7 linked regions of the Homo sapiens genome follow. The protein of the gene in region 1 purifies or fractionates together with the protein of each later gene. This does not show direct contact. Each region holds a gene or a part of one and is shown in the gene's direction. Other genes may lie near its edges. The genes, in order: HEXB, ALDH1B1, HK1, HNRNPH3, RPL22, FH and IPO5.

The links.
Region 2: the proteins of HEXB (region 1) and ALDH1B1 purify together in Homo sapiens (affinity purification with mass spectrometry; 2 studies listed by BioGRID, with this or other methods). This does not show direct contact.
Region 3: the proteins of HEXB (region 1) and HK1 purify together in Homo sapiens (affinity purification with mass spectrometry; 2 studies listed by BioGRID, with this or other methods). This does not show direct contact.
Region 4: the proteins of HEXB (region 1) and HNRNPH3 purify together in Homo sapiens (affinity purification with mass spectrometry; 2 studies listed by BioGRID, with this or other methods). This does not show direct contact.
Region 5: the proteins of HEXB (region 1) and RPL22 purify together in Homo sapiens (affinity purification with mass spectrometry; 2 studies listed by BioGRID, with this or other methods). This does not show direct contact.
Region 6: the proteins of HEXB (region 1) and FH purify together in Homo sapiens (affinity purification with mass spectrometry; 2 studies listed by BioGRID, with this or other methods). This does not show direct contact.
Region 7: the proteins of HEXB (region 1) and IPO5 purify together in Homo sapiens (affinity purification with mass spectrometry; 2 studies listed by BioGRID, with this or other methods). This does not show direct contact.

The regions. Positions count from the first base shown.
Region 1 is NC_000005.10:74,695,233-74,698,732, forward strand, and holds part of HEXB (beta-hexosaminidase subunit beta isoform 1 preproprotein), read left to right. Parts: intron 1-1,460; coding exon 1,461-1,507; intron 1,508-1,763; coding exon 1,764-1,874; intron 1,875-3,500. UniProt on the Homo sapiens protein: Hydrolyzes the non-reducing end N-acetyl-D-hexosamine and/or sulfated N-acetyl-D-hexosamine of glycoconjugates, such as the oligosaccharide moieties from proteins and neutral glycolipids, or from certain mucopolysaccharides.
Region 2 is NC_000009.12:38,391,507-38,395,501, forward strand, and holds the start of ALDH1B1 (aldehyde dehydrogenase X, mitochondrial precursor), read left to right. Parts: upstream 1-1,195; 5' UTR 1,196-1,301; exon of another isoform or gene 1,302-2,927; coding exon of another isoform or gene 2,928-3,059; intron 3,060-3,995. UniProt on the Homo sapiens protein: ALDHs play a major role in the detoxification of alcohol-derived acetaldehyde. They are involved in the metabolism of corticosteroids, biogenic amines, neurotransmitters, and lipid peroxidation.
Region 3 is NC_000010.11:69,381,347-69,384,846, forward strand, and holds part of HK1 (hexokinase-1), read left to right. Parts: intron 1-1,140; coding exon 1,141-1,445; intron 1,446-2,986; coding exon 2,987-3,135; intron 3,136-3,449; coding exon 3,450-3,500. UniProt on the Homo sapiens protein: Catalyzes the phosphorylation of various hexoses, such as D-glucose, D-glucosamine, D-fructose, D-mannose and 2-deoxy-D-glucose, to hexose 6-phosphate (D-glucose 6-phosphate, D-glucosamine 6-phosphate, D-fructose 6-phosphate, D-mannose 6-phosphate and 2-deoxy-D-glucose 6-phosphate, respectively).
Region 4 is NC_000010.11:68,335,064-68,338,563, forward strand, and holds part of HNRNPH3 (heterogeneous nuclear ribonucleoprotein H3), read left to right. Parts: intron 1-2,135; 5' UTR 2,136-2,158; coding exon 2,159-2,270; intron 2,271-2,794; coding exon 2,795-2,933; intron 2,934-3,439; coding exon 3,440-3,500.
Region 5 is NC_000001.11:6,193,096-6,196,595, reverse strand, and holds part of RPL22 (large ribosomal subunit protein eL22), read left to right. Parts: intron 1-3,500.
Region 6 is NC_000001.11:241,502,756-241,506,255, reverse strand, and holds part of FH (fumarate hydratase, mitochondrial), read left to right. Parts: intron 1-87; coding exon 88-253; intron 254-2,010; coding exon 2,011-2,214; intron 2,215-3,500. UniProt on the Homo sapiens protein: Catalyzes the reversible stereospecific interconversion of fumarate to L-malate. Experiments in other species have demonstrated that specific isoforms of this protein act in defined pathways and favor one direction over the other.
Region 7 is NC_000013.11:98,012,675-98,016,174, forward strand, and holds part of IPO5 (importin-5), read left to right. Parts: intron 1-1,367; coding exon 1,368-1,540; intron 1,541-2,855; coding exon 2,856-2,967; intron 2,968-3,051; coding exon 3,052-3,107; intron 3,108-3,500. UniProt on the Homo sapiens protein: Functions in nuclear protein import as nuclear transport receptor. Serves as receptor for nuclear localization signals (NLS) in cargo substrates.

The DNA.
Region 1 (3,500 bases):
TTGCTCTGTTGCCCAGGCTGGAGTGCAGTGGTGAAATCTCAGCTCACTGCAAGCTCCGCCTCATGGGTTCATGCCATTCTCCTGCCTCAGCCTCCCGAGTAGCTGGTACTACAGGCGCCTGCCACCACGCCTGGCTAATTTTTTGTATTTTTAGTAGAGACAGGGTTTCACTGTGTTAGCCAGGATGGTCTCGATCTCCTGACCTCGTGATCCACCTGCCTTGGCCTCCCAAAGTGCTGGGATTACAGGCGTGAGCCACTGCGCCCAGCCAAGAGACGCTTATTGATGTTTGTTCTGATCCATACCAAAATAAAGAACTCTAGCAAGGCTGGGCACGGTGGCTCACGCCTGTAATCCCAGCACTTTGGGAGGCCGAGGTGGGTGGATCACTTGAGGTCAGGAGTTGGAGACCAGCCTGGTCAACACAGTGAAATCCCATCTCTACTAAAAATACAAAAATTAGCCGGGCATGGTGGTGCACGCTTGTAGTCCCAGCTACTTGGGAGGCTGAGGCAGGAGAAGTACTTGAACCCGGGAGGTGGAGGTTACAATGAGCCGAGATCGCGCCACTGCACTCCGTCCTGGGTGACAGAGCAAGACTCCGTCTAAAAAAAAAAAAAAAAAGATAAAACCACTCTTGCGAGTATGCAGTGACTAGATTTCTAGTCCAAGAAGTCCATATTTTCTGTTTACCATCAGACTTTCAGAGTAATGTACTCTAAACTGATCATTATTGAACGTAATGTCACTTAACAGAAACTTTCAGAGTTATTCTTCCCAGCATGAACCTGTACTTGACGAGGTTGGAGAGACAGGAAGGCGTAGCAAAGATGACTGAACTGTTCTTAGGTTAAAAATTCCCTGGCTATATAGCTGTCAGCTAGAATGAGGAATCTGAATAAAGTCAAGGCCAGTTAGAAGAATTAGCCTGTCAACTAGTATATTAAGGGAATAATCCACTTGAGTAAAAAATGTTCAGAAGGTAGTCTTTGCAGCTATAAGTAAAATGCTGTATATTGTAAATTGGCCTTTATTTATAGTTTCATGGTTTTTCCAGCCATTTTTCCCTGTTGCATTTAGATACCTTCTAAAAGTGACTATATTTGATTATAAAAATTCTTTCTCATGATGCCATAAATTTATTAAGGAACCAGTATTTTATTAAATTACTATTCTTCTTTTGTCTATATTGAAACAACCCCCAGGGTATGGGTACAATGAAGTAAAGCACTTTTATTAGATGAGTAGAGAAGTGCAATGGATTTTTTTTTAATTTGGCTTTGATTTTAGAAATTATGGTAGAGGGTGTAGGTATAACAATATATTTTAGAGGATAGAGGTATAACACTATATTCAATTATATTTGCCTTACCTGGTTATGAGTCTGTTTGAATAATATAACTTTTATCATCTCAATTTGTTGATTTATAAATTAATGCAATAAATTTTACTTTCCTCAGGTTTAGAGACCTTTAGCCAGTTAGTTTATCAAGATTCTTATGGAACTGTAAGTATGATTATTATATGTTACTAAAAATTGTTAGACAAATTGCTAATAGAAAAAAATGTAACCTGTTTAGCTATTGCTTCCTGAAGATTTCATTTCCCCAGATATTTGTCTTAGCCGGTAAATGTAAATTTCATACATTTTTGTTGTTCTAAATTAATATTTTATGAAATGCTTGTATAAATAGATTTAGTCTTCATTGAGTTCAAGACAACAGAAAATTCTAAAACTAAATCAAAATTTTATTTTGTCATAGTTCACCATCAATGAATCCACCATTATTGATTCTCCAAGGTTTTCTCACAGAGGAATTTTGATTGATACATCCAGACATTATCTGCCAGTTAAGATTATTCTTAAAACTCTGGTAAGTAATTACTTCATTCTAATCTGTTGTCTATTCTGAAGATGTCTCCTTTATGTTGTAACTTTATGTTGGTTACTATTGTGTAGTTTGGAACAGGGGAATTTGTATAAGCACTGGGCATTCTTTCCTCAGTTCCTAGGGAAGTGTATTTCCTCAGCTGTGACGTGGAGGTCCCCTTGAGAATCACCCTCCTGTTTTCAGTGCGAGAGCCACGTATAACATGTATTTAGCCAAGACTGTTAAGAGAAGGACAGTTTAAACACTGCCCATTGGCCCTTTACATATACTCCCATTTGTCAAATCATGTGTCTAGACTTTTGATTAGGAATACATGGCCACCCAGGTGCGGTGGCTTACACTTGTAATCCCAACACTTTGGGAGGCTGAGGCAGGTGGATCACCTGAGGTCAGGAGTTCGAGACCAGCCTGGCCAACATGGCCAAACCCCATCTCTACTAAAAATACAAAAATTAGCCAGGCGTGGTAGCGTGCGCCTGTAATCCCAGCTACTAGGGAGGCTGAGACAGGAGAATTGCTTGAACCCTCCCCGGGTGGAGGTTGCAGTGAGCCGAGATCGCACCACCGCACTCCAGCCTGGGCGACAGAGCAAGACTCTGTCTCAAAAAAAAAAAAAAAAAAAGGAATACGTGGCCACCACACCATACTTCTAGTTAGTGCCATTTAAATTTTGTGACCACCTCTTACTTTTTTTGTAAGTGGCATTAGAAAGGAGTCCGGGAGCTCCTTTATACCTAGGGAACTATTCCAAAGGAATATGGAACCTCAGGGGTGGTATGGGTTAGGAAGAAGGTTGACAATAACTGTTTTCTCCTATGGGCTTTTTTTTATTGGTTAATCCCCACCATCACCTGCCAATTTGTAGGGGTGGGGAGGTTTCCTCCCATGTTTTTTTGCACCTTCACTTGATCATTATGATGAAACTATGCTATTTAAAAATTATTATTATTATTATTTATTTATTTATTTTGAAACGGAGTTTCGCTCTTGTTGCCCAGGCTGGAGTGCAATGGCGCGATCTCGGCTCACTGCAACCTCTGCCTGACAGGTTCAAGCAATTCTCCTGCCTCAGCCTCCTGAGTAGCTGGGACTACAGGCATGCACCACCACGCCCAGCTAATTTTGCATTTTTAGTAGAGACGGGGTTTCTCCATGTTGAGGCTGGTCTCGAACTCCTGACCTCAGGTGATCCACCTGCCTTGGCCTCCCAAAGTGCTGGGATTGCAGGTGTGAGCCACCGTGCCCAGCCAAAAATTATTATTATTATTATTATTTTTTTTTCTTTTTAGTTGAAGTCTTGCTCTGTCGCCAGGCTGGAGGGCAGTGGTGCAATCTTGGCTCACTGCAACCTCCGCCTCCCGGATTCAAGCAATTCTCCTGCCTCGGCCTCCCGAGTAGCTGGGATTACAGGTGCACACCACCACACCCAGCTAATTTTTGTATTTTTAGTAGAGACAGGGTTTCACCATGTTAGCCAGGATGTTCTCAATCTCCTGACCTTGTGATCCGCCTGCCTCAGCCTCCCAAAGTGCTGGGATTACAGGTGTGAGCCACCACGCCTGGCCTAAAAATTATTTTTACATTTACATTAATACTCTGAATTTTTTC
Region 2 (3,995 bases), on another chromosome or scaffold:
GAAGCCAGGTCAAGGAGCGGCTACAGCCACAGCGGCCGGTCCACAGCCAGAAAGCTGGAGAAGGGACAAGGAATGCTGCCGCAGAACATCTCCCATTTCTGCTATCCTGCTAGTGCCACCCTACAGGGGCAGGACAATACCCTCCAATGCGTGCCCGCCTTCCACATCCGGCAGAGTACTACTAATTGGCAGCACCTAGTCCACATCCAGAACTCTAACTGCAAATGAGGCTGGGAAACATGGCGGTTAGCTTTGGGACCTCCCTAGCCAGAAGGAAGGTGCAGCGAGGGTGGAGCGAGTGAGATGCATGTTCAGTGGTCCATCTTGGCAACCTTTATAGCAACAAAATGGAGACAATTAAATGTCCAACAGTTTACCCCTACAACAGAATTCTATGCCACCTTGGAGAGGATGATGTCATCTGTAATTAGTGATAGGAGAAAACTTCAAAATACAGCGCTAAGTTTTTAAATTTTTTTTAAAGCAGCACAACAGAGGTTACTATATGATTTTATTTTTATTAAAATAATTTTGAAAGATGCAGAGGAAACAATACTAGCAGGACGAACACCGTAATAATGGCTACCGTAGGTGAAGAGATTACAGGTGATATTTTTCTTCTTTTTTCATCCTTTCCTGTGTTTTCCAAGCTTTCTACACTGTGCATACATTCTTTTTGTCCTTAGGACAAAAATGTACTTTGAAAAATGCCCAAATATAAAATCTTCTTGAAGGAACTGAAGAAAGGAGCAGTGAAAGTGGAGGACAGAAATTAGTGAATCCTGGACAAAAAAAGTGAGGGAGAGGCGAGGCAGAGAAGGGGTTAAGGGGAGTCTCAAGGATGGCAGTCGATTAAGCAGCGTCTTGCAGCGGGGAGAAATGCAAAGTGTAGTTGGGGTTCGGTCTCCGAAAACTTTGCTGTGTGACCTGGGGAAGCCCCTGCCCCTCTCTGGGTATCTCTGTTTCCGCTCCCAAACCAGTGCCTTAGGAGCCTAGATCTGAGCAACGTGGACACTGGGCTTGCGGAGACCCGAGGGAGGGAGCGCTGAAGCGGTGCGGGCTGCCGGGGGTAGAGGGGCGGGGACCGGGAAAGACCGGGCGGGGCGAGGGAGGAGCGGCCTTGGCCGGCGACAGGACGTAGGCAGCGCCCCAGGCGCAGGCGGAGCCTCATTGGCCGCTGAGCCCCGGGCTGCGCGGAGGCGGGACCTGCGGCCAGCCCTGGGCGGCCATGTGGACAGAGCTGGGAGGGCCGGAACCAGAACCCAAGCGTGATCCTGAACCGGAGCCCGAGCCTGCTGCAGGTAACTAACGCTGGTCTCCCCTCGGCTCCCTCGGGAAGCCGCAGCTCCTGGCTCCGCGTGGGGGCTTTCCTCTCTGGGCCGCGGCGTCCGCATCTGGGGGCTGGCCTTTCCGCCGTTGCACTGTAGGACTCTCTCCACGTCCCCTAATCCCATCCCCCGCCTCTGGGTGACGCTACAGGAGCCCCGAGGACACAGACGCCCCCAGACCTTACCACGTTAGCTCGACCTCAACACTCCTGCCCACTCGGCCCACTTCAACAGAGGGCCCCTGACCATAGCCCAGAGGCTTGGACAAGCCCAAAGGTTGCGCCCTTTCCCCCGCAGAAGGGGTGAGGTGGGCGCCGCTGCAGTTCCCGCGGATAGAGAAGGTCCGGTCCTTCCCGCTGTGGGTGAACTGTAAAAAATTGCCTGTATTCAGGAGGATATGCAAAGCTAGGTTTGTGGAAGTCTGGGGTGAGGCTCCTATACTTTCTTGCTGTGTGTCCTCGGTGAGTCCCTGAACCTCTCTGATGCCCAGCCTTCTTCCAGAATGGGGGTCATCATCAACCCTGACCACCCAGGGACTGCAGAGAGGCTTGGCAAATTTCCCGTGAGAAGACAGCCTGCAAACTGTAAAGCATGATGCTCTGTGAGCTGTGATCTTCCTATCAGCAAGTGGAGGCCCCAGCAAGAACCCCATATAGGCCCCAAGAGTAGGAACGGCCTTGGTGTGGCTGCAAAGGTTTGCCAGCCTTGGCCTATGACCACCTCTCCTGACTGCTTCACCCCTCCAATCCTTACCCCATGGGTTGGTGACTCCCCTTTCCCCTACCTCCTTTTGGTCTCCTCACCCTCAGAGCCAGGCCTGTTGGTGGCAAGGGGGCTGTGTCCCAGCATATGGCAAAGTCCTGAGCTAAATGGAACCCTGGGCACCCCTGGCAGATCTGCTGACTCAGCTTCCCCCTGTGGGATATGATGAGGTTTCTCTTCAAATAATCTGATCAATCTTTTATTCTTTAATTCTTAGTATCCCCCCCTTTTTTTTTTTCATTTTTCTCCTTTTTGCCTTTGTTAGATGCCCAGGCATGCCACAGTACCAAGCGTTATCAGTACCAGCTCACATTCCTTTGCTTATTTGGAAAGAAGACTAACTTTCTAGCTCATTACAGACACCCTTTCCCCTTTCTCTCCACTTTCTTTTACGTGCCCACTCTATCTAAAATAAATCAAATGTTTAGCCAACCGGGATTAGTTTAGATTGTACGACCTGACCCCAGCCAATGGGGAAAGGGTACAGGGGCAGGACTTGCATCAGGAATAAAGGCTCTCGTGCCCCTTTGTTCAGGTGTGCTCTCATGGCAACTGGCCAAGGAGGCATCCCTCTGCGCAGAAGTAAAATTGCTTTGCTAAGAATCCTGTGTTCGAGTGTTCAATTTCCTTAGGATTTTGAGCATTATTCCTAACACCCGCAAGGGGAAGGGAAACTTTCTTGGTCAGCATTGATTATTATTATTTTTTTTAGATACAGTCTTGTTCTGTTACCCAGGCTGGAGTGCAGTGGCACAATCATGGCTCACTGCAGCCTCAACCTCCTGGGCTCAGGTGATTGCCCCCACCTCAGCCTCCCAAGCAGCTAGAACTACAGGCATGCACCACTATGCTCGGCAAATTTATTTTTGTTTTTTTGTAGAGACACGGTTCTTGCTATGTGCTCAGGCTGGTCTCAAACTCCTGGCCTCAAGCAGTCCTTCCACTTCGGCCTACCAAAGCGTTACCAGCGTAAGCCACCACGCCCATCACATTGATTTTTATGGGGCCGGGGACCTACATGGAGCCTTGCTTTCCTGATTGAGTTTTTTGTTCCTCTCCCTGCCCAGGGGTGGAGGGTGAGAGGCTGGGGGTGAAGGGACAGGCAGGTGCAATTCCATTTTACCGCTGGGCGGAGCAAGACTCATGAGACATCAAAGGCAGAGAGATTCAAATTCTGACTGAAGAATAACTGCTTCAACTAATCTGGGAACACTACACTCTGTTTAATTTTCATTTAATATGTATTATATGCCGTTTAAGTTTTATAACAGTAGTTGTTTTAACGAAGTCTACACTCTTCAGAGTTGTAGCTTTTCTTCTCAGCTGCCTCCTGACTTGCTGCACCTCTGGGAAAGCTGAAAAGGGATGCTGAGACCTGTGGTTGGGGGATGCTGGGCTAGGTCAATTTCTGAGGCACGGCCAGTTCTGATGTCCTGAGTGGAGCTTGCCAGGGTTTTTATATGCAAGACATCATTCAACATAACCCCATGAGGCATTTCACATATGGGGGAACTGAGGCACAGAGGTGAAATGAAGCAAGTCCCTCTCAGAGAACAACCATCTCCAAGTCCCTTTGATTTCTACTCAAGTCTTAGGTCAATTCTTAGACAGCCTTTGTGGCAATTTCAGTGTTTTCTCAGTGTATCATTCAGTACTGTGTGTTGAGCCGCTGCTCTGTAGCAGGCATACCTCTAGGCTCGGGGACGTAGCAGTGAATGGAACAGAAAAATAAGTTCCTGTGCTCATGGAGCTTGCATTTTACTGGGGGGAGACAGACAAACATATAAGCCTGTAAAGATAGTATTTGGGATGTGAGATAGAGAAGGAGTAAAGCAGGGTAGCGGGGATAGAGAGTGTTGGGGTGGGAAGGGTTGCAATTTTTTAAAGGGTGGTCAGGGAAGGCCT
Region 3 (3,500 bases), on another chromosome or scaffold:
CGTAATTGTATTTTTAAAATATTTTTAAAGTATTTGCAAAAATCTTGATAATGAAACTTTTATTAGCCATTTCTTTCTTTTTTCTTTGTAATTTCTTGGCTAATTTTTTGGACAAGAAAGCCTAGGGATTTGCAGCATCACATTAGAATTTTTTTAGATTGTGGTAAAATACACATAACATGAAGTATATCATCTTAACCTTTTTTTTTTTTTTTTTTTGAAGGCAGGGTCTTGCCCTGTTGCCCAGGCTGGAGTGGAGCGGAGTGGTGTGCTCTCAGCTCACTGCAACCTCTGCCTCCCAGGTTCCAGCAATTCTCCTGCCTCAGCCTCCCGAGTAGCTGGAATTACAGGCATCTGCCACCATACCCAGCTAATTTTTGTATTTTTAGTAGAGACGGGGTTTCACCATGTTGGCCAGACTGGTCTTGAACTCCTGACCTCAGGTGATCCACCTGCCTTGGCCTCCCAAAGTACTGGGATTACAGGCATGAGCCACCTCGCACTTGGCCCCATCTGACTTTTGAACACCGTGCTTTTGACCACTGTGCTGTATTATCTTCCTGTCATGGTGGAGGGCAAAATCTTTTTAGACCTGGAATTTTTTGTATGTGATACTCATGTAATAATGAGAGTCTTCTCTTTTTATGTGTGATTATGAACGATTTCATTTTTCCTTTTTACCTCTCTGCATTTGCTAACTTTTCTACAGTGGATGTATATGATTTGTGTAATGAAAAAAGCAGGTGCAGAAAATGGAATTAGGCTGGGCACAGTGGCCCATGCCTGTAATCCCAGCACTTGGGAAGCTGAGGCGGGTGGATAGCTTGAACCTAGAAGTTTGAGACCAGCCTGGGCAACATGGCGAAACCCTGTCTCTACTAAAAATACAAAAAAGTTAGCCGGGCGTGGCCCCAGCTACTCGGGAGGCTAAGGTGGGAGGATCACCTGAACCTGGGAGGTTGAGGCAGCAGTGAGCTGTGATTGTGCCATTGCACTCCAGCCTGGGTGACAGAGCAAGACCCTGTCTCAAAAAAAAGGAAAAGAAAAAAGAGTTAAAGAGTGGAGAAAGAAAGGGTGGCCGGAGGTCCCCAATAAATGCTCAGTCCAGCTGTTGTGGAATGTCCCCCCTGCCCCCATAAGGTATTCCCGGCGTTTCCACAAGACTCTAAGGCGCTTGGTGCCAGACTCCGATGTGCGCTTCCTCCTCTCGGAGAGTGGCAGCGGCAAGGGGGCTGCCATGGTGACGGCGGTGGCCTACCGCTTGGCCGAGCAGCACCGGCAGATAGAGGAGACCCTGGCTCATTTCCACCTCACCAAGGACATGCTGCTGGAGGTGAAGAAGAGGATGCGGGCCGAGATGGAGCTGGGGCTGAGGAAGCAGACGCACAACAATGCCGTGGTTAAGATGCTGCCCTCCTTCGTCCGGAGAACTCCCGACGGGACCGGTGAGGGCCTGCTGGGGGCTGACATGCCTGTCCTGCTCCTGCCAGGAACTGAGCCGCAGTGGGGGAGGTTGGATTCGCCAGTGGATGCCTTCACACTGGTGATGCACGATTTTGCCAGAGCTAGAAACTCCCTCACATCTCTGTTTTCCATTTTTATTAACTGATTTGTCATGTGTGTGACTCAGGGCAGTTTAATTTTCCTGGTCAGACCTCCCAGGCAAGTGCTATCTCTAAAACCACAGCCCTGCTCAGAACAGTGCTCTTAGCTGGGCAAGGTGACACACGCCTGTCATCCAGCTACTTAAGAGGCTGAGGTGGGAGGACTGCTTGAGCCCAGGAGTTCAAGACCAGTCTGGGCAACATAGCAAGACCCTGTCTCAAAAAAAATTAAATGAATAAAAAAGAAGTGTTCTTAAAAGCTGGGCAAATCCCACAGCACTGATTAGGTTTTCCCAAAGCCAAGGAAAGCCAGCAGAAGGATAAACACTCAGTGTACCCTTCTTAAATCTTGATAGAGTATGCATGAGGCATTCAGGGCCTGGGGAGTTTCGCATTCAGGCAAATTGTAGAACAAAATCCAACCCTTTATGCTAACCTTGGTAGTTTTCACTGGAGCTGATCATTATGGGGAATCTGAAGAGCTTTTCAGGTGGGTCCTTGGAGTAACGAATGTTTGTGACAGGAATGTGTCCTATGTGTAAGTTACCTAATACCACATTATAAGCCACCCTCACACTTAGTGGCTTAAAACAACCACGCTTTATTATTGTTCATGCATCTGTGGGTCAGTTGGACAGTTCTGCTCATCAGGGCCAGGATTGGCTGACCTCTGCCGGCCTCATTCCTGCATCTGCAGTCAGCTGTTGAGTCAGCTGGGAGGCAGATCTCAGACGCCCTTCCCCACATGTCCAGCAGTTGGCTGTCAGCTGGGGTGCAGGGGCCCCTGGCCCTGTGTCTCATCCTTCAGTGGGCCACCTGGCTGTTCAAGTGGTGGCAGCAAGGGCTGCGAGGGAGAGGGGAAGACTTCAAAGCCTCCTGGAAGCCCAGGCTGGGGATAGGTTCAGCTTTGCCTCTGCCACACTCTGTTGGCCTGAACAATCCTAGGGCTGGGCTAGATCCCAGGGGAGGAGAAATTGACTCCATGTTTCAGTGGGAGGAACTGCAGTCATGTTGCAAAGAAGGATTTTGCACATGCAGGGAAGGGAATGATGCAGCTGTTTTTGCAAATACCCCACACCTTGACATAAATTATTATTTTTTGTAGGAGATTTTCATTGTTGCAGCCCTGGTGAAGTCTGTGTATTGTGACAGGTGGTTTACTCACATGCTCTCCTCCCAGTGTGGCTCCAAGTCTGTGGTGGTCAGAGATGTGGTGCCCACTCTTCCTCTGAGTCTGTGCTGTGTCCTAAAGGGAGGAGTTGCAGCTTCTCCTCTATGTTTGCTATGGGGTTCTCCCCTTGAAAGTCTGGAGTCTTGGGGTTACTGGCTGCCAAGAGGCACTTAGCTGTTTTTGACATTCTTTACGCTTTTGACTGCAACAGAGAATGGTGACTTCTTGGCCCTGGATCTTGGAGGAACCAATTTCCGTGTGCTGCTGGTGAAAATCCGTAGTGGGAAAAAGAGAACGGTGGAAATGCACAACAAGATCTACGCCATTCCTATTGAAATCATGCAGGGCACTGGGGAAGAGGTGAGATTACAAAACCATAGTGCATGTGCACTGCACACACGGCCAGTGGCACCGGCAGTCACGTGATGACCAAAATCCGCCACGGGGTGCCCACATGGATTTGTGTCCTTGTGGCCCAGAAGCACCAGATGCTTTTTGCCATGCCTGGCTTGTGACACTCTGGTGGCTGAGAAGATTCTGGAAAAGGAGGCTCACTCTGCATGTGTGTGGGGTGTGTTTTCCTACGTGTGTGTGTGTATACACACTTTGGTCCATGTGCACTGATAAAATTAAAACCACAGAGAGCACGGGCGATCCTTTCTTTTCCCCTGCAGCTGTTTGATCACATTGTCTCCTGCATCTCTGACTTCTTGGACTACATGGGG
Region 4 (3,500 bases), on another chromosome or scaffold:
AATTGTGTTAACAGTTTAGTGTTTCTTACAGATAACACTGATAACACTTTTTTTGTTTTCATTGGGTCTTATCATTGGTACAGACTGATCCAAAAATCCAATTGGCTTGCTAGTAATTTTTTCCTGTGAATTGCTAAGATTTATGGGTAAATTAATTTTTCTTTTTCTTTTCTTTTTTTTTTTTTTTAAGCATTTGCTCCTTAAATGCAAATCGTACCACTAAGATCCTCTCACAACAGATTAAGGTCGAATTTGCAGAGTTCTTCAATTTTTCATGAAGCAGTGAGGGTAGATCTGTACCACTTTTTCCGTTCTGTGTAAATCACCGTTTATGGGAAACACTTGTTTTTTAGGTTGGTGCTATTTAAAAAAAATAAATAAAACGGTAGGCATTTTCAAAACATCTCTGAACTTTTTTTTTTTCCCAAACTGGATTGGGGCCGCCTCCTCTCAGAGCTACTCTTTAGAATAGTATTAAACTTATAAAAGCCTTTGCTGGCTTTGGGAAATAAAATTTTTAATAATTCTCAGTTCTTTTCAAGGCTTGAATTGTTTTCTGTCCTTCAGGGTTCACATATTTTGTGTATGGTATAGCTCACTGGCTTTTGCAGGGCCCCTTAAAGTCCAGTAACAATTGCCATCAGTAAATGCTTACCATGAGGCAGACCAAGCACTTGAATAGTCCAGTGAGGTACAGGTACAACTGCTATAGTTTACAATTGAAGAGGCTCAGAGGTAAAGTGGTTCAGGTAGCCAGTGAGTGGCAGAGTAGGGATTCAGACCCAGAACATTCATAATATTTATTTGTGTGCATAACAAGTAGTTGTAATGTCAGTTAAAAGTTTGTATTCCCATTTTGGTTTTCTATGTCTAGAGTGGCACCTAGGGCTGAAGGTGATTGACACTAGAGGTACTTAACTACTTCCAGAGAATTTCTACATTAGCTTATTTTAAGTGCATGAATTCTAGGGAAAAATATTTTACCCTTTGCAGATGCCACCCCTAAGAGATGCACCAACAAATAGATGACATGAAATTAAGCATTAGTGAATGCTGTTGATACGAAATATGATCTTCAAACATAAAGGAATCAAATGAACAAACTTTGTTTACAGGGGAGGAGGTGGTGAGGGAAAGGTTTGAAATACTCAGGTGAGTAGGATTCCTACAGCTGCATAGTGAGATTTGTAAGGTTCTGGTAAGTTTCTGCAGCTGAAGGACTTCTGCATTCACCTCTTTTGTAAATATTATGGAATTTTAAAAGGAAGGATGGTTGCCTCTGGGGAAGGGAACTGGGAACTGAGGTTATTTTGGAGGGGAAGGGGGGCTTCTAGATGTACCTTTTATGCTTTATTAAAAAGTATATTACCTATTAAAGTTTGTTTAAATCTATTTGATTAAAAATTTGAGTAAACTGGTTTCTAAACACTGTCTCCAGTGGCTTCAAAAACACAGGTACTGTTGGAAGGCATTCACTTTTGAGTGGCCTTTGACCTCAGTTTTAATCTGATTAATTCAGTCATTTTATAATCTTGCTCTTGGTGAGTTTAAACTAGATTTGGCTAAAATAGAGGTGGGAGTGTTGGCCCTTCAAAGACAGTTTGATGTGTTCAAAATTGTAGTGCATTTAAAAGGGTTAGACTTCTGTGATATTTGTCCAACGTCAATCAGTACTCATTGCATTTTTTTACTTAGGCTCTTGATGTTAGTGGATACTGGTATTATATGCAACTTCTGAATAAGTTTTAAAGAATTTGAATAATCAGTTGAATAAAAACCTGAAAAGTGGTGAATGAAAATTTGAGAGATAAGGAAAGGCTAGAGTTGGCATTCAGGGGACACAAATAGTTTGAAGACTCTGGTAGTAGAATTATGCAAGTTTTCTTAAAATTAGGCAATATATAATATTGATACTACGAAATTCAGTACTTTTCCGTAGGAGGGGGTCAGGTCTCATTGCCTTTTCCGTACCCCAAAATATGAAAGGTGGTCTACAATTTTGTTGTGGCATTGTCACAGCAGTTGGCCCCATGTTACATTTCCTCTTGTGGCACCTCTGAGAGGTGTTTCTTCATTACCTCTTGACAAGAGTATATTTTGATTGACTGCTCTATGTGCTTGTTTATTTTTTATAGCATTTAAATCAAACGGTATTGAGATGGATTGGGTTATGAAACATAATGGTCCAAATGACGCTAGTGATGGGACAGTACGACTTCGTGGACTACCATTTGGTTGCAGCAAAGAGGAAATAGTTCAGTTCTTTCAAGGTACCTCTAGTATTAGTCAAAGTTTAGTAGTATTGTAATTTTATATTTGTATTGTTTTACTGTTTTTAATTTGTAAAACCCATTTGATTTTGGAACTTTTAAGTTTAACTATGATAGTCTTGGTTAATGTATTAAAATAATATGCTCCAGTTAATATTCAATACAGAATGTGTAGAATATGTAAAACCTAGTTAATGTGCAGTAACATATTTGAGAATTGTGATGAAATGAACCGTGAATTAGTATATGGAGCATATATTTGATTTTGTAGCCTTTTTTCATGTAATATAGGTGGGCTTTTAGAGTGTGTAATTACACAGTGTTTTTACACTGGTCGCAAAAAATTTATTTAATCCAGTAATATTTGAAAAAATCTTTCATTTGTATTATGGGGTGATGGGAAACTAAGCTTTTTTGTTTTGTTTTGTTTTGTTTAGACTTGTTTTAAATATTTGATTCAGATGGGAATGTTTCAGCCTTTAACACTGTTCCCCTTGATGGGGTTATTTGTCCTTGGGTTAAAGGGTTGGAAATCGTGCCAAATGGGATAACATTGACGATGGACTACCAGGGGAGAAGCACAGGGGAGGCCTTCGTGCAGTTTGCTTCAAAGGAGATAGCAGAAAATGCTCTGGGGAAACACAAGGAAAGAATAGGGCACAGGTGGGGATGGAGAGTTTGGGATGGTGTTAAATTTTTATTTTTGGGGGTTGTGGGTCACTATTGCTTAAATGGGGGGGTAGCCATAACATTTTTCTGGGGTAGTTTAAAAGAATTGATAATTATCTAAATTTAACTTGGAAACTACAGATTTGGGTGGGGAATTAATGCTAATAGTTAAATTAAAATTAGATTGTTTCCATTTCTCTGTAGGATGTTGTTGATAAATGCTTTTGTATAATCACCTATTTCCTTTAAAACACCTATTATGTACTAAAAGAGACAAAGTAAAAATATACTTTATGAATTGTTTTCCGTGACTAATTTCTTTGTAAAACTTAAATATTTAATTAAGTTTGTAGGTTTAAACTGTTAACTTACGGTGTATTTAGGCAATTTAAATTGGGTTATGTATCTAGATATAGAAAAACTTACTGCATTTTGCCCAGTATCTAATTTACACTAATACATTTATGCTGAAACCTGTACCTTAAAACATTTTTAAATAGGTATATTGAGATCTTCAGAAGTAGCAGGAGTGAAATCAAAGGATTTTATGATCCACCAAGA
Region 5 (3,500 bases), on another chromosome or scaffold:
TGTGTAGAAGTCTCCTAAATTTGCATTTGCTCTAAATTCTCCAGAAGGTTGAACTATTGCCAGGATCAGTATCATTACAACAAAAATAATTTTTAAACACAAAATAATTATGGTCACGAATTATCCAGAATGGAATTTAGGTAACCTCTTATAGTTTATTGCCTTTATGTAGATGCTGTTTGCATCTGTGTCCTTCAAGAAATCCCCTATTTCCTTAGTTCTTTCTCTATCCAGTGACTTCTGGCTTTTCTGTGGCCTCCTCTTTTTCAACTTTGGTGTCTTCCAGTTTGGTATTCACATGGTGGCCCTGTTCTGGCATTATTCCTGCCTCCCTCCCTCTGAGCCATTCCCTCAGCCCACTCATCTGTTTGTGTGATTGTCTTTCCTTCTGGAAGCCTCCTTAGGATAGAAAACTTAAGTCATTTATGAATCTTGAGATGCAGAATTCAAGATTTCTGACCTAATCACTCTGTGCCCCATCTATGGTTAATGTATACTTTTTGTTTATTTTATTTTATTTACTTTGTTTTTTGAGACCAAGTTTTGCTCTTGTTGCCCAGGCTGGAGTGCAATGGTGCAGTCTCGGCTCACCACAATCTCCGTTTCCCTGGTTCAAGCCATTCTGGTGTCTCAGCCTCCCGAGTAGCTGGGATTATAGGCGCCTGCCACCACGCCTGGCTAATTTTTGTATTATTAGTAGAGATGGGGTTCCTCCATGTTGGTCAGGCTGGTCTCGAACCCCTGACTTTAGGTGATCCACCCACCTCGGCCTCCCAAAGTGCTGGGATTACAGGCATGAGCCACTGCGCCTGGCCATTTTATTTTATTTTTATTTATTTATTTTTGAGGTGGAATCTCACTCTGTCACCCAGGCTGGAGTGCAATGGTGTGATCTTGGCTCACTGCAACCTCCACCTTCCAGGTTTAAGTGATTCTCTTTCTCAGCCTCCCGAGTAGCTGAGATTACAGGCGTGTGCCACCATGCCCACCTAATTTGTGTATTTTTGTGGTAGAGACGGCGCTTCACCATGTTGGCCAGGTTGGTCTTGAACTCCTGACCTCAGGTGATTTGCCAGCCTCGGCCTCCCAAAGTATCGGGATTACAAGCATGAACCGCTGTGCCCAGCCAAATTTTTTTTTTTTTTTTTTGAGACGGAGTCTTGCTCTTTGTCACCCAGGCTGGAGTGCAGTGGTGTGATCTCGGCTCACTGCAAGCTCCGCCTCCCATGTTCATGCCATTCTCCTGCCTCAGCCTCCCGAATAGCTGGGACTACAGGTGTCTGTCACTATGCCCGGCTAATTTTTTGTATTTTTAGTAGAGACAGAGTTTCACCGTGTTAGCCAGGATGGTCTCAATCTCCTGCCTTTGTGATCCGCCTGCCTCGGGCTCCCAAAGTGTTGGGATTACAGGCGTGAGCCACCGCGCCTGGCCCCAAATTTTTATTTATTTATTTATTTTGAGACGGAGTCTTGCTCTGTTGCCCAGGCTGGAATGCAGTGGCACGATCTTGGCTCACTGTAAGCTCCGCCTACCGTGTTCATGCCATTCTCCTGCCTCAGCCTCCCAAGTAGCTGGGAAACAGGCGCCCGCCACCACGCCTGGCTAATTTTCTGTATTTTTAGTAGAAACAGGGTTTCACCATGTTAGCCAGGATGGTCTCGATCTCCTGACCTCGTGATCTGCCCACCTCAGTCTCCCAAATTTTTATTTTTTGAGAAAGGGTCTGTTGTCCAGGCTGGAGGGCAGTAGCATGATCCTGGCTCACTGCAGCCTCAACCTCATAGGCCCAAGTGATCCTCCCACCTCAGCCTCTGGAATAGCTGGCACCACAGGCATGCACCACCATACCTAGCTAATTTTTAAATTTTTTTGTAGAGGAAGGGTCTTCCTAAGTTGCCCAGGCTCGTCTTGAACTCCTGGGCTTGAGCAATCTTCCTGCCTTGGCTTCCCAAAGTGCCGGGATTACAGGTGTGAGCTACTGCACCCAGCCAGTTAACATATTTTGTATTGGAGTTTTTAAACAGAAAATTATAGGAATTTTGAGCTGAAAGGGACTTCATGTCATTGCCATAGCAAGAAAACAACTAAAAAGGTCCTTTTTGGGCAAAGCTTTCTGAAGCACAAGGAGGTGAATGTCTTGCTGAGGCCCACACAGTAGTTTGCAGAGAATATCTCAGGCTCCTGAGTGGCTGCTGCTTCTGCTGTACCACACATGGCCCTGGACCAGGTCTAGAATTGTTTCAGTCCCTATGTCTTTGCTCTTTCTACTAGGTTGAAGGCTTATTTTCTGATAGTGCTGTGAACAGTGTTTTATACTCCTTAGATTCAGAAGTTGCTTTTAGCTTTGGTTGCATGTACCTTGTAAAAGTTTGTTTTATTTATTTATTTTTTGAGACAGGGTCTCTCTGTCCCCCAGGCTGGAGTGCAGTGGTGTGATCTCGGCTCACTGCAACCTCCGCCTCCTGGGCTCAAGGGATTCTCCTGTCTCAGCCTCCTGAGTAGCTGGGACTACAGGCACATGCCACCACACCCGGCTAATATTTGTATTTTTTGTAGAGAGAGGGTTTCGCCATGTTGCCTAGCCTGGTCTCAAATTCCTGAGCTCAGGAGATCCACCCACCTCAGCCTCTCAAAGTGCTGGGATTACAGGCGTATCTTGTAAAAGTCTGGCCTTGGGTTTCCTGTCTAGTGTTGTCCTTCTAAGCCTTTCGTGGCGAGGCCCAGTCGGCCTTGTGTGGAAGTAGTCAAGTACGTTTACACTGGGATGTTGTCTCATAGTATGTATGTAAATGGGATTTGTTACCATTTTTAAAAAAGACTGAACATTTAAGAAACCGATATTAGGGCCAGGTATGCTGGCTCACACCTGTAATCCCCACGCTTTGGGAGGCTGAGGTGGGAGGATCACTTGAGCCCAGGAATTTGAGACCAATCTAGCCAACATAGAGAGACCCCTTCTCTTAAAAATGTTAAGCCAGGCGCAGTGGCTCACGCCTGTAATCCCAGCACTTTGGGAGGCAGAGGTGGACGAATCACCTGAAGTCGGGAGTTGGAGACCAGCATGACCAACGTGGAGAAACCCCGTCTCTACTAAAAATACAAAATTAGCTGGGCCTGGTGGCGAATGCCTGTAATCCCAGCTACTTGGGAGGCGGAGCAGGAGAATCACTTGAACCTGGGAGGCGGAGGTTGCAGTGAGCCGAGATCGCGCCATTGCACTCCAGCCTGGGCAACAAGAGCTAAACTCCATCTCAAAAAAAAAAAAAAAAAATTGTAAAGTCAGCTGGGGCCAGGTGGGATGGCTCATGCCCGTAATCCTAGCACTTTGAGAGGCTGAGGTGGGAGGATCACTTGAGTCTGGGAGGTCGAGACTTGAGCTTGGGAGGTTGAGACTGCAGTGAGCTGTGATTGCGCTGGTGAGACTCTGTCTCCAAAACCAAAACAAAAAATGATATTAGTTCAGTGTTGGGAGACAGATAAAATATTCTGTTGAGACAGA
Region 6 (3,500 bases), on another chromosome or scaffold:
TTTAAAAATTTCTATTTAATGCAGTTAGAGTAACTTGTAAGCTATTAGGAATTACTTATTCTTACCTTAATTTTCTTTTCTTTTCAGGAATTTAGTGGTTATGTTCAACAAGTAAAATATGCAATGACAAGAATAAAAGCTGCCATGCCAAGAATCTATGAGCTCGCAGCTGGAGGCACTGCTGTTGGTACAGGTTTAAATACTAGAATTGGCTTTGCAGAAAAGGTTGCTGCAAAAGTGGCTGCACTTACAGGTTAGTGATCACGTGAATTATTTCTCATTTTCATTTCTCATTATACGTGGTCTGTACATTTTCTGAGTGTTCCTGTCTTGAATTCTTGTGAATTTAAAGTTAGAAATGATATTTTTCCATCAAACATGTGTTTTAAGTATATTTCTGAAGTTATAATGTTAATTATTTGCCTTTTAAAAAATGTTCCATGTAGGAGTTTATACAGCATGCCATTAAAATCTACCAGTGTTAGCTTTGTTTACTAGTTAGTTTTCAATTAATTTCCCTTTAAAGTTTTGAATAGCAGTTTTCAAAATAGGCAGAAAAAACTGAGTGTTGAGTAAGTTATTTGAATAGTAAATATGTTGTAGACAGACTTAATTTCTTTTTTTTCCTATTATGTCATGCTGTGATAATTCTTTGAATTATTGACCTTTTTGAACCATGTCTTTCCTTTAGTAGAGAGAGTATTATACTTTAGATAATGATAACTATTATTAGGGCCAAGTTGTCATCTTCAGAAAACTCTCATTAAGATGTAGATGTTACCAGACGGTTAGGGTAGAGATAATTATACACTGCACATGATAGCTTACCAGCTGATTTGTCTTTAAACCATATTTTAATAGAAAAGAACTCTACTTTTAGGGTTTGGCAAATGTAGATTTATAAAATTTTTAACATGGGGGTTAACTGAGAACATCTAACTCATTTTAGCACACTGTTTTTATAGGGGATCTTGTGGGCTCCTGGCTAGGGGAGAGGATGAAGCACAGTAAAGTGGACAAAGAAACTTTAAAAAATTGTATTAGGGGCCGGACATGGGGGCTCACACCTGTAATCCTAGCACTTTGGGAGGCCAAGATGGGCAGATCACTTGAGGTCAGGAGTTCGAGACCAGCCTGGTCAACATGGCGAAACCCTGTCTCTAGTAAAAATTTAAAAAAATTAGCCGGGCATGGTGGCGGGCGCCTGTAACCCCAGCTACTTGGGAGGCTGAGGCAGGAGAATTGCTGGAACCCTGGAGGAGGAGGTTGCAATGAGCCAAGATCGTACCACTGCCCTCCAGCCTGGCTAAAAAAGCAAGACTCTGTCTCAAAAAAAAAAAAAAGAAAAAAGGTATTAGGAAAGGAGTGTGGTATAAACCAGAATGAATTCCCATATACTTTTTACTCAAGCATAGTCAGGCATCATATACGTGTGTTTGCAGTAGGATTGTGTTTTTTCTTTCAGTACATTTATCATACTTGTTATTTCATCTTTTTAAAATGTAGTGCCTGGCTAAGCACAGTGGAATTACACTCCTGTAATTCCAGCACTTCAGGAGACCAAGGTGGGTGGATCGCTAGAGCCTAGGAGTTTGAGACCAGCCTGGGCAACATGGCGAAACCCCATCTCTACTAAAAATTAAAGAATTAGCTGGGCGTGGTGGTGTGCACCTGTAGTCTTAGCTACTCTGGAGGCTGAGGTGGGAGGATTGCCTGAGCCATGGAGGTTGAGGCTACAGTGAGCTGTGATTGAGCCACACTGCACTCCAGCCTGGGCAGCAGAGTGAGACCCTGTCTGAAAAAACTTAAAAAATGTAATACCAGATTCTTTCTACTCCTTTAGGACTTCTTTTAAAAATGTAGACAAAATTTGAGTCTTAAGTAAACATTTTTTTCTGAAGTAAAATTTTTATTTTTTCGTATATTGGAACTTTCTGTTTCACTTGCTAATGGTAGAAAAATGTTTAGTTTAACTTGTTCACCCATCTAGGATATTTTTCTTTTCTTTAGGCTTGCCTTTTGTCACTGCTCCGAATAAATTTGAAGCTCTGGCTGCTCATGACGCTCTGGTTGAGCTCAGTGGAGCCATGAACACTACTGCCTGCAGTCTGATGAAGATAGCAAATGATATTCGATTTTTGGGTTCTGGTCCTCGGTCAGGTCTGGGAGAATTGATCTTGCCTGAAAATGAACCAGGAAGCAGTATCATGCCAGGTAATCACATAGCTAGTAAATGTTGGAGCTAAAACTTGACTAGGTCCTAGGCATTCTTAGCTATGGACCATGTCTCTCTTTGTTTAAAGTTATCCCGCAGCTGGATGCGCAAGGCGCACTGTTCCAGCATGTCTGTGGTCCTCTGGTCAGGACTGCTGGGCACGTCACCTGACAAGATAGGAAGAAAGAATCTGACTTAGCAGCAAGTATTTCGAATCCCACATTAGAAAATGTAGAGCAGGCTGTTAAAGTGATCAGCGCGGGTTGAATAAAAAGAAGTCATACCAAACTTCACTTATTTCATTTTTTGCATTCCGTTATATGCCTGTTAGATATAGCAAGTGACACAACAGTGTATGTCTGGATTTCAGCAAGTCATTTGATAGATTCGCATGATAGTCATTGATTCCAGTGGAGAAGCGTGGGCAGTGCTGGCAGATGAATGTAGCTGGGTGAACAGTGACATTTCAGAAGTGACTAATGAAGTGACTTCAGTCTAGAAGAATATATTGGTAACAAGCTGAAGGGCTCTGCCCTTCAACACTTTACTGGTGACTGAGGGTGAAGGAAGAGAATACATGCTAATCATATTAACAGTTAACAAAGTTGGGATAGCAATACTATGGATGACAGAACTGAGATCCATAAAGGCCACTGTAGCTTGGGCTAAAACTGACAATGTAACTTTTAATAGTGAGAAAGGCCTGACTCTAGATTTTTATGGAAATTATGGATCTGTAGAATAAGAAGAGATGAAATTTTGTTTTAAAGTACTTCATGTTGAAGAATGACATAAAGGTTTAGTTGATTGCAAATCCAGGGTGATTGCCAAAAGAAAGAGAACTGGGGGAGTCACAGATAAAGGCAATAATCCACCCAATAATCTTTCCAGTGTGTTAACTTGTACTGGTCAGAGGAATCTGGGTTGTTTGATTCAAACTTGGAGCTTGTCCAAGGAGTGTGAGCAGGGTAGTGGGGTTCCAGAGACTCGTGATAAATAGGAAAATTTTAGCTTAGCATCACCTTCCCCTAGGAAGCCTCCCATGTGTTAGTGAAGGGTCGCTTTTATAAGTGTTCTGATAGCAGCATACACTACTCTGTATTTACCCCTTATAATTGCCAGCTCTTTCTCCCTAGCCTCCAAGTTCTGCGAGGGCAGGGCCTGCATCTTTCTTATTCAGTGTTGTATATTGAGTGCCTGGCTCCATAAATATGTATAGAATGAATGAAAATCATGAAGGTGGAGAACTATATTTAATGTGTAGTTGTGGCTACTCGTTAGCCTT
Region 7 (3,500 bases), on another chromosome or scaffold:
TTTAAGAGATGGTGTCTCACTCTGTCACCTAGGCTGGAGTGCAGTGGCGTGATCAGGACGCACTGAAACCACAACTTCCCAAGTAGCTGGGACCCAGGTGCACAACACCAAGCCCAGCTAGATTTGATTTTTTTTTTTTTTTTTTTTTTTTTTAAGAGATAAGGTCTGCCTATGTTGCCCAGGCTGGTCTCAAACTCCTGGGCTCAAGCAGTCCTCCTGCCTTGGCCCCACAAAGTTATGGGATTACACACCTGAGCACTGTGCCTGGCAAGACCTGTCTTAATAGATTAGAGAACCACTGATAGATGGTCAGCTTTCTGTAGCAGTGAGAACCCTACATTTCAAATGTGGATAGCACCTTTGCGGGGAAACATCACTTGGCACATCTGCATTCTTTTTTGACACAGGGTCTCACTCTGTTGCCCAGGCTAGAGTGCATGGCACGATCTTAGCTCACTGCAACCTCCACCTCCCAAGTTCAAGCGATTCTTCTGCCTCAGCCTCCTGAGCAGCTGGGATCACAGACATGCGCTACCATGCCCAGCTAATTTTTTGTATTTTTTGTTTGTTTGTTTTTGTTTTTAAGTAGAGACGGGCTTTCACCACGTTGGCCAGGCAGGTCTCGAACTCCTGACCTCAGGTGATCCACCCACATCTGCGTTCCAATATCTTTCTCAACATAATGATAGCCGTAATTAATATTTTCCAGTACATTTTTATGCCTTTACACACGAGAGTGGTAGACAGACACAAACCCAGATCTGTCTGACTCCAAAGCCCGTTTGTCATCATTCCTTTTACGGTATCCTATAGTGGTATCCTTTACAGAAGACAGCTTTTACCCAACAAAGACTTAACTTCCCAGGATGCCAGAGGACAAAGCGGGATTGCTTTTAAGAGGAAGTTATCAAGACCTTATTTTATAAATGAGATTAGATAGGGAAAGGCAATTTAATCTTTATTAAAAACTGAAAAGGCCAGCATAGGAAGAGGTCCTCGGTGGTCTTTTTCAGGGAAATACTTCAGTTGCTTTTATTAGAAACAGATAGTACCTAAGGTTTTGAGGTAGGTACAGCTTAAGGCATGCTAATGGTCATGGGTCCTTCCATAGTCATTTTTGTATTTTGGTTTACATTTGAGCAATAGGCAGCCCTTCACTGCTGCTGGACTCATTCCTGCCACTATTACAGGTGACAGAGGAGACAGGAGGTATGTCTTTTCTATTTTTATACATGCTTTATATTTAACACAAGCTCTTGGGTATCTTAGATAAACAGAAGTTGCCTAGCACTCCTTTTAGTGCATTGAACCCTTTAACATTTAAGCAAAATAATAAACAGTCTTTTGAGGTTCCTTAACAATGAAACGTGTTCGAGTGGCAGCAGCGGAATCCATGCCTCTTCTCCTGGAGTGTGCAAGAGTCCGTGGTCCTGAGTATCTCACACAGATGTGGCATTTTATGTGTGATGCTCTAATTAAGGCCATTGGTACAGAACCAGATTCAGACGTCCTCTCAGAAATAATGCATTCTTTTGCAAAGGTGAATATTTTTCTCTTAAAAAATATGTATAAGGTTGTATGTTCATTTATTAGTCTTGCTAAAAGTAAAAAAAAAAAATTTGAGACAGGGTATTGCTCTGTCACCCAGGCTGGAGTGCAGTGGCGCAATCGCAGCTCACTGCAACCTCCACCTCCTGGGTTCAAGCAATTCTCATGCCTCATCCTTCCAAGTAGTTGGGATTATAGGCATGCACCACCACACCTGGCTACTTTTTGTATTTTTAGTAGATGTTCCTCAGGTCTCAAACTCCTGGCCTCAGGTGATCCACCTCGGCCTCCCAGAGTGCTGGGATTGCAGATGTAAGGCAGCTAAATAAATTTTTATATGCTATAGTGTATGATTTGTTAAAAAATAAAAATGTTAAATTTTTTGTTTTAATATTTTGGTATTATTATGTTTGTTTTAAAGAGGGTAAATTTGCCTTGGAAGGGCAGTATAGGTAGAGGGAATGATATGGGCAGCAGCATGGAAGCATGCATTCTTTGGAAAAAGAGAAGAAATTCTGAATACTCTAGTATTTTAGTCTTGCACTTAATAATCCAACTATAGAAGCTTGGGTATCATCTCCAGTTTCTGTTCTTTACACTTTCCTCAATTCTTCTCTTTTTTTTTTTTTTCATTGCCCCATCTCTTTTTCATGCCATTGAAATAGCCTCACTTGGGCTACTCCAGATGTCTCCTTTCTTTTCCTCTCAGTTCATTCTCCTTTCCTCAAGCACTGCCTTCCTCTTCATTGAGTCACTTCCTTTCTCATACAGTGTCACTCCCATTTTGCACAACTCTAGTTTGCTCCAATCTTGATTGAAGATTTACAGTTTCTCAGCATCTTTATATGTCCTTATTTACACTCCTGTAATTCAGAATTGCTTCTGATTTTCCAAAGACAGCATGCTTCCATACCTTTGCCTATATTTTATTTCTTCTACCTCTAATGCCCTTCCTTCAGTGTTCTTGTATGTTGTGTGTACGGAGTATGGATATAGCAATTGTGTTCCTTAGGAGCTGGTTGTGTGTGTGTGTGTGTGTGTGTGTGTGTTTTCCATCTTTGAATCCTCAGTACCAAGCATGATGCCTGGCACCTAGGTATGCTCAGTAGTGTTCAAAAGAAAATATTTTTTTCTAACTCCAATCTCTAAAATGCTGTCATTCTAACAAATACAAGCTAAGCATATGTAAATAATCTTCCAGGATACTGAACTGTGTTCATTTTTCCATATGATTCTTAGTGGAGTTTAACTTTGGACTCCAAACACCCCAAATCTTATGGATTGCTTTCTTTCCTCAACCTCATTAGTGCATTGAAGTAATGGGAGATGGATGCCTTAATAATGAACACTTTGAAGAACTGGGAGGTATATTGAAAGCAAAGCTTGAAGAACATTTTAAAAATCAAGAATTACGACAAGGTAAGTTTTCCATGCTTTTATTTCTGAATATAATCCTTGACCATCTTGGCAATCATTTAAAACATTTATTTGGGTGTGTTTTAGTTAAAAGACAAGATGAAGACTATGATGAACAGGTCGAAGAGTCACTACAAGATGAGGTAAGTTATTCCCTTTGGAACTTACTTACGTGACCACTTGCATCTGAAAGACTTGTAAATGCCTCAATTTCTGATTTATGTGACTTGTCATTCTGATGTAATTATCAGTCTTTAGCAGAGGAGTCAGATATATTTCCTCTCTTAATTTATGAATAAGTAATTTGAAATTAAACTGATATGTCTTTCGGTGCTATGTGCATTTTGTTGTAATACCTCACTCAACAAAACACCTTGAGGTTTACCTAGTTCATTTACATACTGCTCACAACAACCATTTGTATTTTGTGGTGCTTTCACTATATTAAAGATGAGTAACCTAAAATTCCAGTGTTAAATGATTGCCTAGAGTCACACTGTTGACGGTCTGGGGCCTTTTTCACCATGTTACTTAGT